Regions from separate parts of the Homo sapiens genome. Here region 1 is linked to region 2. Evidence: fine-mapped expression QTL. Tissue or cell type: tibial nerve. Region 2 holds a variant in brackets; the other region holds the start of a gene. All regions are shown on one strand. Distances are between the middles of the regions. Region 1 holds the start of CAV2-DT (CAV2 divergent transcript). Region 2 overlaps CAV2-DT (CAV2 divergent transcript).

The links. PIP is the estimated chance that this variant, and not a neighbour inherited with it, causes the effect.
Region 1: CAV2-DT starts here. The variant in region 2 is fine-mapped to the expression of CAV2-DT in tibial nerve (GTEx, PIP 0.97).

The regions. Positions count from the first base shown.
Region 1 is chr7:116,495,161-116,503,317 of GRCh38, reverse strand. It overlaps CAV2-DT (CAV2 divergent transcript), which reads left to right and starts at 3,802. Exons shown (of 3, transcript NR_188012.1): 1 at 3,802-3,964. It overlaps CAV2 (caveolin 2), which reads right to left and starts at 3,580. Exons shown (of 3, transcript NM_001233.5): 1 at 3,387-3,580; 2 at 2,871-3,058. The coding sequence starts at 3,536. RefSeq lists silencers at 1,529-1,823, 3,608-3,697 and enhancers at 3,878-4,017, 4,064-4,565.
Region 2 is chr7:116,453,741-116,461,897 of GRCh38, reverse strand. The region is part of intron 1 of CAV2-DT (CAV2 divergent transcript); the gene reads left to right. Among named protein-coding and RNA genes, the nearest start is that of CAV2-DT, 42 kb to the left of the region's middle. The variant C/G (reference allele first, on the strand shown) is at 4,276.

The DNA of each region.
Region 1 (8,157 bases), 41 kb before region 2:
TGATCCTCCGACATCAAACTTAAGTTGGGTTCTCAACATCACAAATAGTTTAGCTTCTGAAACTCCAGGCAGTTCTGATTGACCCAAAATTTGGTTGAGGCTGAATGTGGCCAATACTTCTTAAGTAAATCTTATAATATATATATATTATATATATTAATATATGTAAGGTTATATATTCCTTGGATAATATATATCCTTGGATAATAAGGCCATAGGATAGAGACTTTTATTTAGTGTTGTAGTAATTGTAGAGTCATGCAGACTGCATTCATAGCAATTTACTGTATGAAAACTGTCTTCTAGAAATGAGATTGCTACTATCGCATTTCCATCAGTTGGGCATTTGTTTGCTTTGCATTCCAGCAAAAATAAGGGATATGGGTGCTCCAGCCACATTTCTTTGGTTATGATCCACTTATGACCAATAACCTGTGCTTAACAAACAGCAGCTATCTCTGTCTGACTGTAGTATGGAATCCAACTAATTCACTGATTCCTAATGGCCCGTACTTCTGGTCTAGGATCCAACACCACCAGACTTCTGTGTTTTATTGTTGTTGATTGTTTGTTTAAAGGATCTAAAATCTGACCTGTTTTAATATTGTGACATGGTTCAAAGTTCCACTACTGCATATTTTCCTAGCTTTGGTCACCACTAACTTTTTGGTAAAAACAATACACAAGCCCCTGCTTTAAAAAATATATATAAAAAGAAAACAAAACAAAAAAAGCTTGCCCAAATGGGTTTGCAATTCTGTAAGGTCTGTCCTTGATCTGGTCTTATCATGTCATGGGAATGCAATCTATTAATGATAAACCTATTTTATCAAGGCATAGCTAACTTTTAAGCATTCTTGTTTGAAATTACTCCTCTACTTGCAATCACAGCTGCCTGGTGACAAATGTTTTACAGTTAAATATTAATGCCCCACATAAATATAGTTAAAAAAACAAGCTGAAGTTAAATAATATTAAATAATACATTTTATGTGGCTAAAAAAAGGTGCATTGATGATTCACCAATTGAAGCACTATACAAAAACACCTCCCATTCTCAGAAGAGCCAGCTGGAGAGAGGCATTGCTTGGTTAATTGTAGTTTTACTTATATCTTTCCACCACTTAGTAAATGAGAAACTTTTTTTTTTCAAATTCTTTCACAAAAGCTTTGGGAAGCCTAGCTTTGTTGACTATAAATATGGTACTTCACATTTCCAAATAGCTTCATAGTCAGCATTTCACAATATGCTATGCGGTCACTCAGTTTTTCACAGTTTTGAAAGTGAGAAAACTGACATAGAGGTTAGATGATTAGTTTTAGTTAATTGGGAATCCCAAATCTTATGTGCCAACTCAGGGATCTTAAAAAAAATTCAAGTGCAAATGTCAGAATATAACTATCCATTTGACCTTCATGAAGCTGATCATGTACTAAGGCAACATTTTCATTTCCCTGGCAATCTTGGCACCTTCAACATAGTTTAATTGTTTACAACCTTTAGTGATAAAATTAAATTGGTGTTCTTTGTGTATCCTTTACGTATTTGGTGAATTTTCATTTATCCTTTCAAAGTCTTTTTCGACTCCTTTCACTCTTCAAAGCCTTGTCTGTTCCTCCCTCTTTGTCAGTTGACTGTGTTTTCTCAGCGTCCATCTCTGTACCTAGCCAGCTGCCCTGATAAGGCTGTGAGTAAGCTGAAGGCAGACCCTATCTCTCATTCATCCTGGCCCAGTGCCCAGCACAAACTAAGCACTCAATCAATTTAAAGTTTGTTGAACTAACTAGCTAGCTAACTGACTAAATAAATTAAGATTCAGGTGGTATAGAGAAATAAAGGATAAATTGGTAACTTCTAACAATGAACACCGAGTATTTATCAGGGTGTGGCAATATCATAAAAGGTGTAAGAAAGACACGGAGGTACCTTGGGTTATACCTTTCACCAGGACTAACCTGAAGCACTAGCGTGACAACTGTTGTGATACTGGGGATGATCTGAATATTCTTCCTCTCAGATTAAAGTGGATATTTTCTAACACAACAACATTTATTGGTAAAATATGACATTTTCCATAAAAAATTTAAAAGATGCTTAAGAAAGTTCTCTACAGTTTAGGACACATTTTGAGTATGAATAGAGTTACTCAAAATATCCTATCAATATACAGTGGGCTTCCATATTTCTTTCCCCTTTAATTATATGCCACTTCCATTTGTGTTTCATCAGTGAAAAAGTAATTTGGAGGCCTTCTCATTCATTATCCCGCAGCTGGAGTTTTCATTCGTTTGTACTGGGGGGGACCCTCGCCTTAACTGCACACACCTCCCTTTCCTCTGGGTCCCATCCTTGCCATCTGCCAGGGGCAAAGTTGAAGCAGCCCCTCCACACTACTGCTTAACCAGGTCTGACATCCTCATCCAATTCTACTGTCAGCGGCATTCTGCTCAGAGATCACTTTTGTTTTACCCCAAGCACAGGCAGTGACTGAATAAAAGGCAATGAAAGAAAGAAGAGTCCTGCCCAGAACCGCAGGTACGAGTCACAACAGGGCCCCGAGAGCAGCCTGTGGTAAGAAGTGTGGCTTCCAGGTACCCGCCTCCACACTCAGCCCAGCCTTATGTATGCAAGGAAAATCACACCCCAGGAAAGACCGACATTCTTTCTCCTGTTGAAACTCCAAGCCCAAACTGTTATTCTAAAGGAAGCGCATTGCCTTTCAAGGCCTTCCAGTTCTTCCTACTGCTTGGGAACTGATGCGCGTTCCTCCTCCTGACGCCGGCCTGGGATAAGAGGAGAGTAGGGGGCAGGTGGCGGAGAATATGCCCATGTTTCAGAAAGCCGGTCCACCCGGTGTGCCCCGTCTCACCAGATGTGCAGACAGCTGAGGGTGGCAAAGAGAATTCCCGCAATGAAGGCCAGGGGAATGGCCAGGAACACCGTCAGGAACTTGTACATTACGTATTTGCTGATTTCAAAGAGGGCATGGCTGCAGATCCACACTTTGTCAAAGGAGTGCGTAGTCACCGGCTCTGCGATCACATCCTCGAAGCCCAGCTGAGGAGACAGGACGCAGGGACCCCGAACTGTCAGCCAACCTGACGCCCCGGGAACCGGGAGCGCTTTGGGCGGGGGAAGCAGGAGGGAAGGACGTGCCAGGGCGTCCGCCTCTTCTCTTAGGGTCACGGTGGGCGCACAGGAACCTGGCTAAGAATTCCTGGCTACGCGGGCGGCCTGGTGACGGGTGGGACCGGGGAAGGGTGCGGGTCTCAGACCCTGCGGGGCCGACCCGGTAGCAATGGTGGGACGGGTTAGGGCGGGGCTGAGGGGCGCCCGCACCTCCCGGCCTCAGCGGGGACTTGGGCCCGCCCGCCCCGGGCTTCACCTTGAGATGCGAGTTGAGCCGGTGGGGATCCCGGTCCTGGTCCGAGTCCGCGAACTTCTCGGGGTCGGCGTACTCGAGGCCGCTGTGGTGGCTGTAGGAGTCGTCGTCCATGAAGAGCTGTACGTCCGCCTTCTCCGTCTCCAGCCCCATCGCAGCCTTGGTGCGCGGCCGCTGCAGCCCGGCTGGCGCGGTGCGGCTCCCGGTCCGCGCGGCCTCCCCTTCCCGTAGCGCCCGGCCCCGCCCCCCCTCGCCTCGCCTAGCCCTGCGAGGCCCGGGCGGCGGCCGCTTCCCGCTGTGGGCTCCAGCTCCCAGCCCGGCCGTCCCGAGCCCCGCCCCGGCGCCCCGCCGCCCCTCCCCGCCCACCTCCCCCGCCGGGGCGCAGGGAACCGTCCCCACGAGTCACAGCCCGGGCCCTGCAGTGGGCGGCGACGCCGGCAGCTGGGACGAGGAGGGCCTCCTGGTCACCCTTCTGGGGGCCCGTACTGTCATGCCTCAGAGCTGGCAAGTCGTCCCAGGGAAGACAACGGCCTTCCTGGAGGGAGGGAACCTTGTGGTTAGGCGCATGGGGTGCGAAGCAGGTATGTGCTCACCTCCGGCTGTGTTTGCCTTGCGTGCTGCGGCTCATGGTGCTGGTATTGAGCCTCTGGGAACCTCAGCTGCCTCGTTGGCAAAATGGGGGCTGTGGCATCTGTTTCAGGGGTGTCCGTGAGAATTAAATGTTAATTTCACATAAAATTCTAACACACATGGCCCATGGCCCGTAACACACAGTGATAAACTTCCAATCAACGTTGTTGCTGCTGTCGTGAGAGGTAAGGAGCCACAATGTACCTGAGTGCTAGGTACCTGAGTGCTAGGTGACCTGCAAGTGCATGTGGAGTTGGGTAGGCGAACGCCCTGGCCCTAGAGTTTGTGCCTTCAGATCTGAGGTGTGAGGGGAGATCTGATTTTTTTTTTTTTTTTTTTTTTACTTCCTAAACTACACCGTGTGTGTGTGTGTGTGTGTGTTTGTGTGTGTGTGGCAGAGTTTCGCTCTTGTTGCCCAGGCTGGAGTGCAATGGCACGATCTCGGCTCATCGCAACCTCTGCCTCCCGGGTTCAAGCGATTCTCCTGCCTCAGCCTCCCGAGTAGCTGGGATTACAGGCATGCACCACCACGCCTGGCTAATTTTGTATTTTTAGCAGAGACGGGGTTTCCCCATGTTGGTCAGGCTGGTTTCGAACTCCCAACCTCAGGTGATCCGCCCGCCTCGGCCTCCCAAAGTGCTGGGATTGCAGGCGTGAGCCACCGCGCCCGACCTCCACCTTTTAATTTTCTTGTGAACCAGACTGTCTTGAAAGATTCAGGAACTTCTAAGATGCAGTCACATCTGTGATTATCTTGCAGGCAGCACGGAAACAGAACCCTAACACAAAGCCACATTGCAATGGATGAATTAGCCTGCTGACCACTCACGCAAAGGTTTTCAGAAGGGAGGAGTTTGCATGTTCATAAAGGGCTTTAGGGTCTGGTAGACATATACGTGTGTTTGGGGAGGAAGGGCACTTAGTGAAAATTTGCCAAAAGCAAAACAATGAGAACTAGGCTTGAGGTGCAGGTTGCTCAGAGCTCAAAGTAGGCATGTAGTAGGTATTGCTGGATACAGTGTATTTGGAGCTTGTTGAACATATCAAATCCCCTTATGTGAACTGGATTTGAAGAATTGCTTCTTCCGAAAGAAAAAAGATCATTTTTGAAACAGTAAAAATTACAGAAATAAAAAAGAACAGGAACTGAATGAGAAAAATGTTTGGGGGTGGGAGGCAAAGTTCAATATTTCTAATAATTAAAAAGTTTCCCTGCTGCTACCTCAGTATATGAAGGGCAGTGTTGTAACCCTATAGGGTGTTACAGAGTTGACTCTCATGGCTATGGAGCCCCTCCTCTCCCAGACATCACCCTGCTTACCCATTCCCTTCTTTTTTACGTATCTTTCTCATTTTTATTTATGTTCAGTCAATTCCAAAGTGATGACTTAGACATTCTACTCATTGCATTTTCTCTGCTTCTCCACCTTGTCCATTCTCCTGATGAGAATTGGAACTCTTCTAGAATTGTTGCCCAACAACTGTTCATTAAAGTGAATAGAAGACATGAATCCTTATGGGAATCCATAATATCAACTGTGAGGAACAGAAAAAAAAAGGAGATAATTTACAGCCAAATACCATTTTATAATTATAATTCAAAATTATAATCCCAGATTTCAAGGTCTCACCCAAAGAAGAAAGTCACTGCCCTAGTACAAGAGTGGGCTTATGTAGTGGGTAAAAATCTGACATTAGCACTTCTTACCTTATAATTCTTGGTCCTCATTACATTTACATTTTCCATGGGATTATTAGGACATTTGAGAGTTATCACAAATAATTGATTTGTTTTCAGGAAGTGGCCAAGAGGACTCTTTAGACAACAGCTTCATTCGTAAAATGATAGGTATTTAAGAAAGGTGTCTCTAAATCCCATCTAAATGAGACCCATCTAGATTTGTTGTATGGAGCACAGAACTTGAAAGGAGAGGATTCATTTATTCATCCATTTGTAATTTTTTATTGAACAATCTTCTCTCCCTTGGGTCAGATCTGGTGAGGTTCTTATTTTGATGAAATTCTTATACATTTCAACATTTTAATACATAAGATTTTTTGAAGGAAGCTATAAAAATGATTTTGCTTATCCTATTGGCCAGTATTTAGATAAGGTTAGTGATATGGCTTGGATTTGTGTCCCTGCCCGAATCTCATGTGGAACTGTAATCCCCAGTGTTGGAGGTGGGGCTTGGTGGGAGGTAGAGATTAGATCATGGGGGCAGAGTTCTTAGGAATGGTTTAGCAACCACCCCCACTGCCACCCCTGCCCCCCGACCCCGCAGTTGGTACTGTATAGTGAGTGAGTTCTCATTAGATCTCGTCCTTCAAAAGTGTGTGGCACCTCCCCCTCACCTTTCTTTGGCTCCTTCTGTGGCCACGTGAGGTGATACTCCCTGTTTACCTTCCGCCATGATTGTAAGTTTCCTGAGGCCTCCCCAGAAGCTGAGCAGATGCCATCATAATGCTTCCTGTACAGCTAGTGGAACTGTGAGCCAACTAAACCTCTTTTCTTTATAGATTACCCAGTCTCAGGTATTTCTTTATAGCAGTGTGAGAACGGACTAATATAGTTAGCTACTGTTTTTCTCAAGAGGCTTAAACCAGAGTGATTCCCACAGCAATGGCATCTGTCCTTATGAACATAAAGGAAAATTTACCAGGAAAGGGAAAAGAAAGGGGGTGGGTGGGTGCTAAATGGCTGAACACATTCTAGTGTCTTCTGGATCACAGAATTACTCTCCAATAAGCACCTCCTACAGAGTTTACGTGCCCTGTAATCCAGAGAAATTAAAAAAATTATAATAAATTCCTACTGGTGCATTTATCTTCTGACTTATTATGTATCATAGCTTCTGATAAGAGGGCTGTTTTTTAGATGGTGTATTAATATATTTTAGAAATAACAGTCTGATAATAGATTAGAATTTGTGAGAAGGATAGTTTATAACCATTTTGTTACTCACTTCTTTCAGCACAGTGTCAATGGAAGAAGGTTATTTTTCTGGAGCATTGAAAATTGTATGGCAATGCTCTTATGAATAAAAATATCTAATTTTTTCCCTTCAGCTTTTTTTCCTTTTCAAATCACAAATGTGTCATATTTTTTTCCCTGTATAACGCACATGCAATTTTAGTCAGGGTCTGTTTTTCAAACTGCCTTTGAGCAAATTGGTATTAACGAAAATGCAGTAATAAATTCTTGATCTCACCATATGTTTTAATAATATTCAGAGTGTTCAGATTAGACCAGAGTTTCTCAATCTCAACCCTGTTGGCATTTTGGGCCAGATCATTTTTCCTTGAGAGACTGTCCAGTGCATTGTAGGATGTTTAGCAACATCCTTGGCATCTATCCACTAGATACCTATAACACTCCCAGTCATGACAACCAAAATGTTTCCAAATGTTGCCAAATGTCCTCTGGGGGGCAAAATCACCTTTCTCCTTCTTTCCCAGGCTGAGAACCACTGAATAAGACAATGTTGAAACAGTGCTGTGTGAATTAGAAAAATTAAGCTCCAGCTCTTCATTTACAAATCCATGCTTAGAAATCTCAGAGTTGTATCACCAATGTATTAGAAACTCCAGGGCTAGGCCTGGCACAGTGGCTTACACCTATAATCCCAGCTCTCTGGGTGGCTGAGGAGGGAGACATAGTGAGACCCAGTCTCTACAAAAAATAAAAAAAAAACTAGCCAGGTGTAGTGAGAGATGCCTGTAGTCCTAGCTACTACAAGAGGATTTCTTGAGCCCAGGAGTTTGAGATTGTAGACTGGAGTTTGAGGGCACAGAGCAAGGCCCATCTTAAAAAAAAAAATAGAAAGAAACTCCACGTCTTTTTGAAATTAAACTTAAGAATATTTGTTTGTCATGTAAAATGTTCAGAAGAACCCATTATCATTGACTAATTGCAATTTTTTCAATACAATGTTGGTATTAATTAATGAATACATATTAACCCCCACCCCCTTCCCCTAGAGATCAAAAGGAAGCAACTGCCAAGGCCTCAAGCTCTGTCTACCTTGCCTGGCCTCCTATACTTTCCTCACAAAGGTTAGGATTGTTTAAATGATTATATCTGGAAAAATACAGGCTTGGGACTTCTTGATCTGTAAGATTCTCTCTTAAAGCTATAAAATTC
Region 2 (8,157 bases):
TATCTTTATTACATTTTGCTGGATTTGACTGGCTAATATTTGTTGAAAATTCTTGCTTCTCTATTCATGAGAGGTGTCATTCTGTTAATTTTGAGATTTCACAGTTTATTTCCTGCAGAATCTTCTGTCTTATTCTGCATAATCCATATGCTAATCTAGACCAGAATTTTTACTTTCTGTTTTAACTTGTAATTTCTGTGCATCCTATGCTTCCCCCCTAGTGTTTAATGCTGGATGTTGCTTTTTTCAAAAAGTTGATTTTATCTTTTCTTATTACCAGTTGCAGAAAGTTCACAATCTCTATTAATGTATTTGCTCAAAGTTTACATTGAGAATTAAGATTTTCATTCTAAGAACTTCAACCTCTTCCTTATATGTTTGAGCCAGAATTTCTTAAGATGTATTATACATAATAACTTTCATATCTGATACGAGATATTTTCACTTGGTTTGTTACATAATTACTTAAATGTTTCCCTCCTTTTCCTCAGATCTGATTATCTTTTTTTCCCAGTATTTTCTGTTATTGGAAACTCCATACATTTTATTACCCAAATCAGAAAAATGTGGTTCTCTCTGTCACTCTCTATTTTGGATCTGTAACTAAATCTTGCCAATTCTATACCTTAAAAATCTCTCAAATCCATCTCCTTTCTTCTCTCTGTCATTGGATTCATATGCACAACATTTTTCTTCTGGATTTCTGAAATCATATTCTGACTGATTGCATTTCTACTTTTCTTTTCTTTTCTTTTCTTTTTTGTGAGCAACATGGCTGTTTATTTCACCTGGGTGCAGGTGGGCTGAGTCCGAAAAGAGAGTCAGGGAAGGGAGATAGGGGTGGGGCCGTTTTATAGGATTTGGGAAGGCAATAGAAAATTACAGTCAAAGGGGGTTGTTCTCTGGTGGGCAGGGGTGGGGGGGTCACAAGGTGCTCAGTGGGGGAGCTTCTGAGCCAGGAGAAGGAAATTCACAGGGTTAATCACTCAGTTAAGGTGGGGCAGGAACAAATCACAATGGTGGAATGTCATCAGTTAAGGCGGGGCAGGGCCTTTTTACTTCTTTTGTGATTCTTCAGTTACTTCAGGCCATCTGGGCATATACGTGCAAGTCACAGGGGATGCGATGGCTTAGCTTGGGCTCAGAGGCCTGACATTCCTGCCTTCTTATATTAATAAGAAAAATAAAACAAAATAGTGTTGAAGTCTTGGGGTGGCGAAAATTTTTGGGGGGTGGTATGGAGAGAGAATGGGCGATGTTTCTCAGGGCTGCTTCAAGCGGGATTAGGGGCAGCGTGGGAACCTAAAGTGGGAGAGATTAAGCTGAAGGAAGATTTTGTGGTAAGGGGTGATATTGTGGGGTTGTTAGAAGAAACATTTGTCGTGTAGAATTATTGGTGATGGCCTGGATACAGTTTTGTATGAATTGAAAAACTAAATGGAAAAGATCTAAGAATTGGGAGGACCTAGGACATCTGATTAGAGTGCCTAAGGAGATTCAGCATAGTCCTGCCAGCAAAGATTATTTATTTACTTCAGGAGTTAAGAGTGGCAGTTTGGGGATAGCACGAGGAGATATCAGCTGTAATGGCTTGGAGAAACAGTGTAAACTGGCAGTGTAAACAAGAGCAGGGCATGCATGAGTAGTTGAGAACGGAGAATAGGAGTATGACCAGACAGAAAATAGTAGGGATGACAAGTTTTTTGGGGCACAGTCTAAGTTGGTCTGGTGTCTGGAATGAGACTGGGGCCTAATAAAAAGGAGCGTATACACAGGAGCTTAAATGGGCTGTACCTTGTAGGATTCTGAGGACAGGTCTGACTTCTGAGAAGGGAAAGTGGTAAAAGTATTGTCCAGTCCTTTTTAAGTTGGTGGCTGAGCTTGGTGAGGTGTGTTTTTAATAGACCATTAGTCTGTCACTGAATACCAAGAGCCTGAAAAAATGCTTGGCTGATTTGACTAATAAAGGCTGGTCTGTTATCAGACTCTATAGAGGTGGGAAGGCTAAACTGAGGAATTATGTCTGACAGAGGGGAAGAAATGACTGTGGTGGCCTTCTCAGACCCTGTAGGAAAGGCCTCTACTTATCTAGTGAAAGTGTCTACTTAGACTAAGAGGTATTTTAGTTTTTGTGACTCAGGGCATGTTGAGTAAAGCTAATTTGCCAGTCCTGGGCTGAGGCAAATCCTCGAGCTTGATGTGTAGGGAAGGGAGGGGGCCTGAATAATCCTTGAGGAGTAGTAGAATAGCAGATAGAACAGCAGATGGAACACTGAAAAGTTATTTCCTTGAGGATAGATTTCTACGATGGAAAGAAAATGAGAGGTTTTAAGAGGTGGGCTAGTGGCTTGTACTATAGTATAGCCTGCCTTCGCTGGTGTGTGGCGATTAGGCCTGGTGGAACTGCCATCAATAAATCAAGGGTGATCAGGGTGAGGAACAGGAAAGAAGGAAATATGGGGAAATGGGGTGAATGTCAGGTGGATCAGAGAGATACAGTCATGGAGGTCAGATGTGGTATCAGGAATAATGCGGGAGGCCAGATTGAAGTCCGGGCCAGGAACAATGGTAATTTTGGGACTTAACAAAGAGTGAGTACAGCTGAAGGAGCCGGGGAGCAGAAAGTATATGCATCAGGTATGAGGAAGAAAATAGATTTTGGAAGTTATGAGAAATGTAGAGAGTGAGTTGAGCATAGTTTTGTGATTTTTAGGGCCTCTAAAAATACTAAAGCAGCTGCAGCCACTGCACGCAGACATGAGGGCTAGGCTAAAACAGTAAGGTCAAGTTGTTTGGACAGAAAGGCTACAGGGTGCGGTCCTGGCTCTTGTGTAAGAATTCTGACCGCACTAACCATGCCTAGGAAGGAAAGGAGTTGTTGTTCTGTAAGGGATTGAGGTTTGGGAGATTAATCGGACATGATCAGCAGGGAGAGCACGTGTGTTTTTATGAGAATTATGCTGAGATAGGTAACAGATGAGGATGAAATTTTGGCTTGACTGAAGTAATGGGGGCTGTCTGTGAAGCCTTGCAGCAGTACAGCCGAGGTAATTTGCTGAGCCTAATGGGTGTCAGGGTCAGTCTAAGTGAAAGCAAAGAGAGGCTGGGATGAAGGGTGCAAAGGAATAGTAAAAAAAAAGCATATTTGAGATCCAGAACAGAATAATGGGTAGTAGAGGGAGGTATTGAGGATGGGAGAGTATATGGGTTTGGCACCATGGGGTGGATAGGCAAAACAATTTGGTTGATAAGGCGCAGATTCTGAACTAACTTGTAAGCCTTGTCTGGTTTTAGGACAGGTGAAATGGGGGAATGGTAAGGAGAGTTTATAGGCTTTAAAAGGCCATGCTATAGCAGGCGAGTGATAACAGGCTTTAATCCTTTTAAAGCCTGCTGTGGGATGGGATCTTGACATTGAGCAGGGTAAGGGTGATTAGGTTTTAATGAGATGGTAAGGGGTGCATGATCGGTCGCCAAGGAGGGAGTAGAGGTATCTTATACTTGTGTGTTAAGGTGGGGGGATACAAGAGGAGGACGCAAAGGAGGCTTTGGATTGGGGAGAAGGGCAGCAATGAGATATAGCTATAGTCCAGGAATAGTCAGGGAAGCAGATAATTTAGTTAAAGTGTCTCAGCCTAATAAGGGAACTGGGCAGGTGGGGATAACTAAAAAGGAGTGCTTAAAAGAGTATTGTCTAAGTTGGCACCAGAGTTGGGGAGTTTTAAGAGGTTTAGAAGCCTGGCCGTCAATACCCACAACAGTTATGGAGGCAAGGGAAACAGGCCATTGAAAAGAAGGTAATATGGAGTGGGTAGCCTCCGTATTGATTTAGAAGGGGTATTGATTTAGAAGGGGACGGGCTTACTTTCCACTGTGAGAGTTACCTAAAGCTCGGCGTCCGTGATGGGTTAGGGGGCTTCCGAGGCGATTGGGCAGTGTCAGTCTTCAGCCACTAAGCCAAGAAGATCTGGGAAGGAGTCAGTCAGAGAGCCTTGGGCCAGAGTTCCAGGGGCTCTGGGAGTGGCTGCCAGGTGAGTTGAACAGTTCGATTTTCAGTGGGGTCTCACACAGATGGGACGCGGCTTAGGAGGAATCCTGGGCTGCGGGCATTCCTTGGCCCAGTGGCCAGATTTCCGGCACGTGTAGCAAGCTCCTGGGGGAGGAGGTTCTGGAGGAACGCCTGGCTGCTGCAGTTCAGGTGTTTGGAAGTTCTTGTGTGCTGGAGATGTGGCTGGGGTTTGTCTCACAGTGGAGGCAAGGAATTGCAACTTTTTT[C/G]TATTATTGTACACCTTGAAGTTGAGGTTAATTAAGCCCTGTTGTGGGGTTTGAGGGCCAGATTCTAATTTTTGGAGTTTTATTTAATATCTGGAGCAGATTGGGTAATAAAATGTATATTGAGAATAAGATGGCCTTTTGACCTTTTAGGGTCTAGGGCTGTAAAGCGTCTCAGGGTTGCTGCCAAATGAGCCATGAACTGGGCTGGATTTTTATATTTGATGAAAAACAGCCTAAATGCTATCTGATTTGGGATAAAGAAAAAGGAGCATTAACCTTGACTATGCATTTAGCTCCAGCCACCTTTTTAAGAATAAATTGCTGGGCAGGTGGGGGAGGGCTAGTCACGGAAGGAAACTGTAAGCCGGACCAGGTGTGAGGAGGGGAGGCGATAAAAAGATTATAGGGTGGAGGAGCAGAGGCTGAGGAAGCATTGGGACCTAGCTCGGCCTGGCGAGGAGGGGAGAGGTCAGATGGGTCTGTAGAAAAGGAAGATTAGAAAGACTCAGCGACGCTTGGGGTTGGGACTGAGGGGACAGGCGGGAGGGAAAGAAGGAAGATTTGGGACGAGTTGCACTGGGCACAGAGACTAGGAAGGGACTGATGTGTAAAAGAATGCCTGGATGTCAGGCACCTCAGACCATTTGCCCATTTTACGACAAGAATTATTTAGATCTTGTAGGATGGAAAAATTGAAAGTGCTGTCGAGTTTGTATTGGGGTCAAGCGGCATTGCAGAAGAAAATAAGGCATTTACGTTTTAGGTCAGGTGTGAGTTGAAGAGGTTTTAAGTTCTTGAGAACACAGGCTAAGGGAGAAGAAGGAGGAATGGAGGGTGGAAGGTTGCCCATAGTGAAGGAGGCAAACCCACAGAAAAGAGAGTGTAGAGACACGGAGGGAAGGGTTTTGGGGGTTCTTACCCTCCAGAAAAGCAGGAAGGGGGGTTGGGGCACGGAAATAAGGGATTGGGGCACAGAGATAAGAGGTTGGGGTGTGGAAATAAGGGATTGGGTGTTCTTGCCCCCTAGAAAAGTGGGACTTGCCGCTAAGGGTGAAGGAGAAGGGGTTGAGGGGTACTTGCCCCTCCCCCAGAAAAGCGGGACTTGCCGCTAAGGGTGGAGGACCAAGGCAGGCATCCCTGCGTGGTCTGACACCTTTGAAACGTGGGTGAATAATCAGAGAGGCGCCCTGCATTGATTAAACACCAAGGGAAGGCTGCCTTCCCAGTCCGTGACCGGCGCCGGAGTTTTGGGTCCACAGATAAAACCTGTCTCCTTTGTCTCTACCGGAAAATGAAAGGAATTGAAATTAAGAGAAGGGAGAAATTGAAGTGTGGCACCAAGATTGAAAGGAGAAAGAGGTTGAGGGATAGTGAGGGAAGTTGGAGAAGAGAGTAAAAAGAGGCTGCTTACCAGATTTGAAATTGGTGAGATGTTTCTTGGGCAGGTCGGTCTGAGGACCTGAGGTCATAGGTGGATCTTTCTCACGGAGCAAAGAGCAGGAGGACAGGGGATTGATCTCCTAAGGGAGGTCCCCTGATCCACTAAATTTCATGCGCGTCCGTGTGAAGAGACCACCAAACAGGCTTTGTGTGAGCAACATGGCTGTTTGTTTCACCTGGGTGCAGGTGGGCTGAGTCCGAAAAGAGAGTCAGCCACATTTCTACTTTTCAACCTGCCCTTCACTTTGCCTCTAGATTGACTTTTCTGAAAAGCAAATTTACTTTTCTGCTTAAGATTTAGTGTCCCTTTTTGCCTTTAGAAAAAAACATGAACTCTTTAGTACAATTCCCAAATTATTAAAGACCTGTTTCCTATTAAAAAATATCCAAAATGGATTTGAGTTGAAAACAAATTCCACATAAGTTAGCAAAGTGAAAAACTGTAACAGCTTCTGTGCAATAACCTGAGTCAACATTTCCCCGACTGTGGCATGACTGAGACTTTCACACTTCTGCACAACTAAGAGAACCATCTTATTCCCACTTTTGCATGGGCCAGTAATTACATACTTGATTAAAAAAAAAAAACTTTGTTAAAATATTCACATTTCTTTGGCTCTACATCTGTTTTCATTTGTGTGAGGCAAAAAGTCCCATGATTGTAATGGAAAACTTGTTATTAATCATATTCATATAGAAAATTAGGCTGCATCTGATGAAATGCCAATGATTGGAATTAAACAATTGTTTTAGCTCAAATGTGTCTTCATTACTAGTGCCTTACCCTGGTTCTCAAGTCAGAAATGATCCACTCTTCTTTTGTGCTCTGAAAGCCCCTTGAACCTCACATTGCTTTACTTTGCAGCTAATTGTTTCTATATCTGTTTTCACAAAAGTTTGAGTTTTTGAGGCAAGGATGTTTTGCTATTTGCTCATAATGTGTCATGCAAAGTCTGGCTCAAAGACAGAACTTCATAAATGTGACTCAAATTCATGCTAAGACTAAAATTGTAAGTATAGACACGGAGCTGTTATGAACATGAACATTACAGAATGCCAGCTTTGGAACCTCTGGAAGACAATTATGTGACTCCTCGTTCTCCAAATTCAGAGTCTCATGGATCAAATTCATGTCATTATTAGAAATGCAAAAGCAAGAATATAAAAATTAGCTTCCTGGATGAGTGTTTCTTAGACTTTGGTACTTGTTTATATTTAAGTCATTTTTACTGCAGTTTCAGAGGGTGATGCTCATGTCTTGCCAGCAAAGCCAATATTCTTTTGGTGTTTTTATTATCTTAGACCCCAAGTATTTGATTTTGTTATGTTATCTTTTTTTTTAATGTTTGCTATCGTTGGCTTAATTTAACAAAAGAAAATTTTTTTATTTTTCATTTTGTCTTGCAATAACTGTAAAGTAGATTAAATCAAGTTTTTTCATATGGGTAGAGAAAAATTTTAATGAGCAATTTGAAATACATTTTTGCATATGGCCAACATATTTAAAATCTTCATTTGCTTTTTACTTTAATCTTGGATATAAAAAAAAGGCATCATAAAAGCAGAATCTTAACAGATGCATGATCCTCACATACGGTTTATGAGCACAGATCGCAAATGAGTAATACTAATTTGTTTATTATTTCCATCCCTGTGGAAACTTTGATGAATAGAAAGTTAAATCATGAAACAATTGTCACTTTCTCAAAAATAAGCAATTTATATTATAGTGCAAAAAATAAATATGCAAATGTATTTGAGGCATAACACTATTCAGATTTGTCTGAAACTTTTCTACCTACATCAATATCTTCTTTCATAAATTTAATTGTTAAAGACAGTAAAATAGAACTTCTAGAACATGTTATTCAGGCATATTAATCTAGAGTAAAAACATGCAGATCAGGTAGGCTCTTATTTAGTATCAAGATGAAACAATAAGATTTAAACAAACTATGATATTTTGGAAATTCTTCTTTTATTTATTTTTTGAACACTTATTAACTGCACAATCTTGGGCAAGTCTCCCCATTGTCTCTCTGAGTCTGTATTTTTACCTGTCACATAAAAACATGTCAGCCTTGCCCACCTTAATAAATCCAGGAAATATTTATTTAGCTCTTTTATGGGACATACACTGTTCCAGGCAGTTATGTTTCATAACAGAAGGGATACAGATGTGTAAGGAGACACTAATAAACATAAATAAATGAACATCACAATAAATAAGTGATGTGGGGAAAAACAGTAGGGTAAAGGCAGAAAGCTTCTGGTGGGAAGAGTAGGCTTATTGCAGCTTAAAATAAAATTGTCGCCGGGCACGGTGGCTCACACCTGTAATCCCAGCACTTTGGGAGGCTGAGGCGGGCGGATCACGAGGTCAGGAGATTGAGACCATCCTGGCTAACACGGTAAAACCCCGTCTCTACTAAAAATACAAAA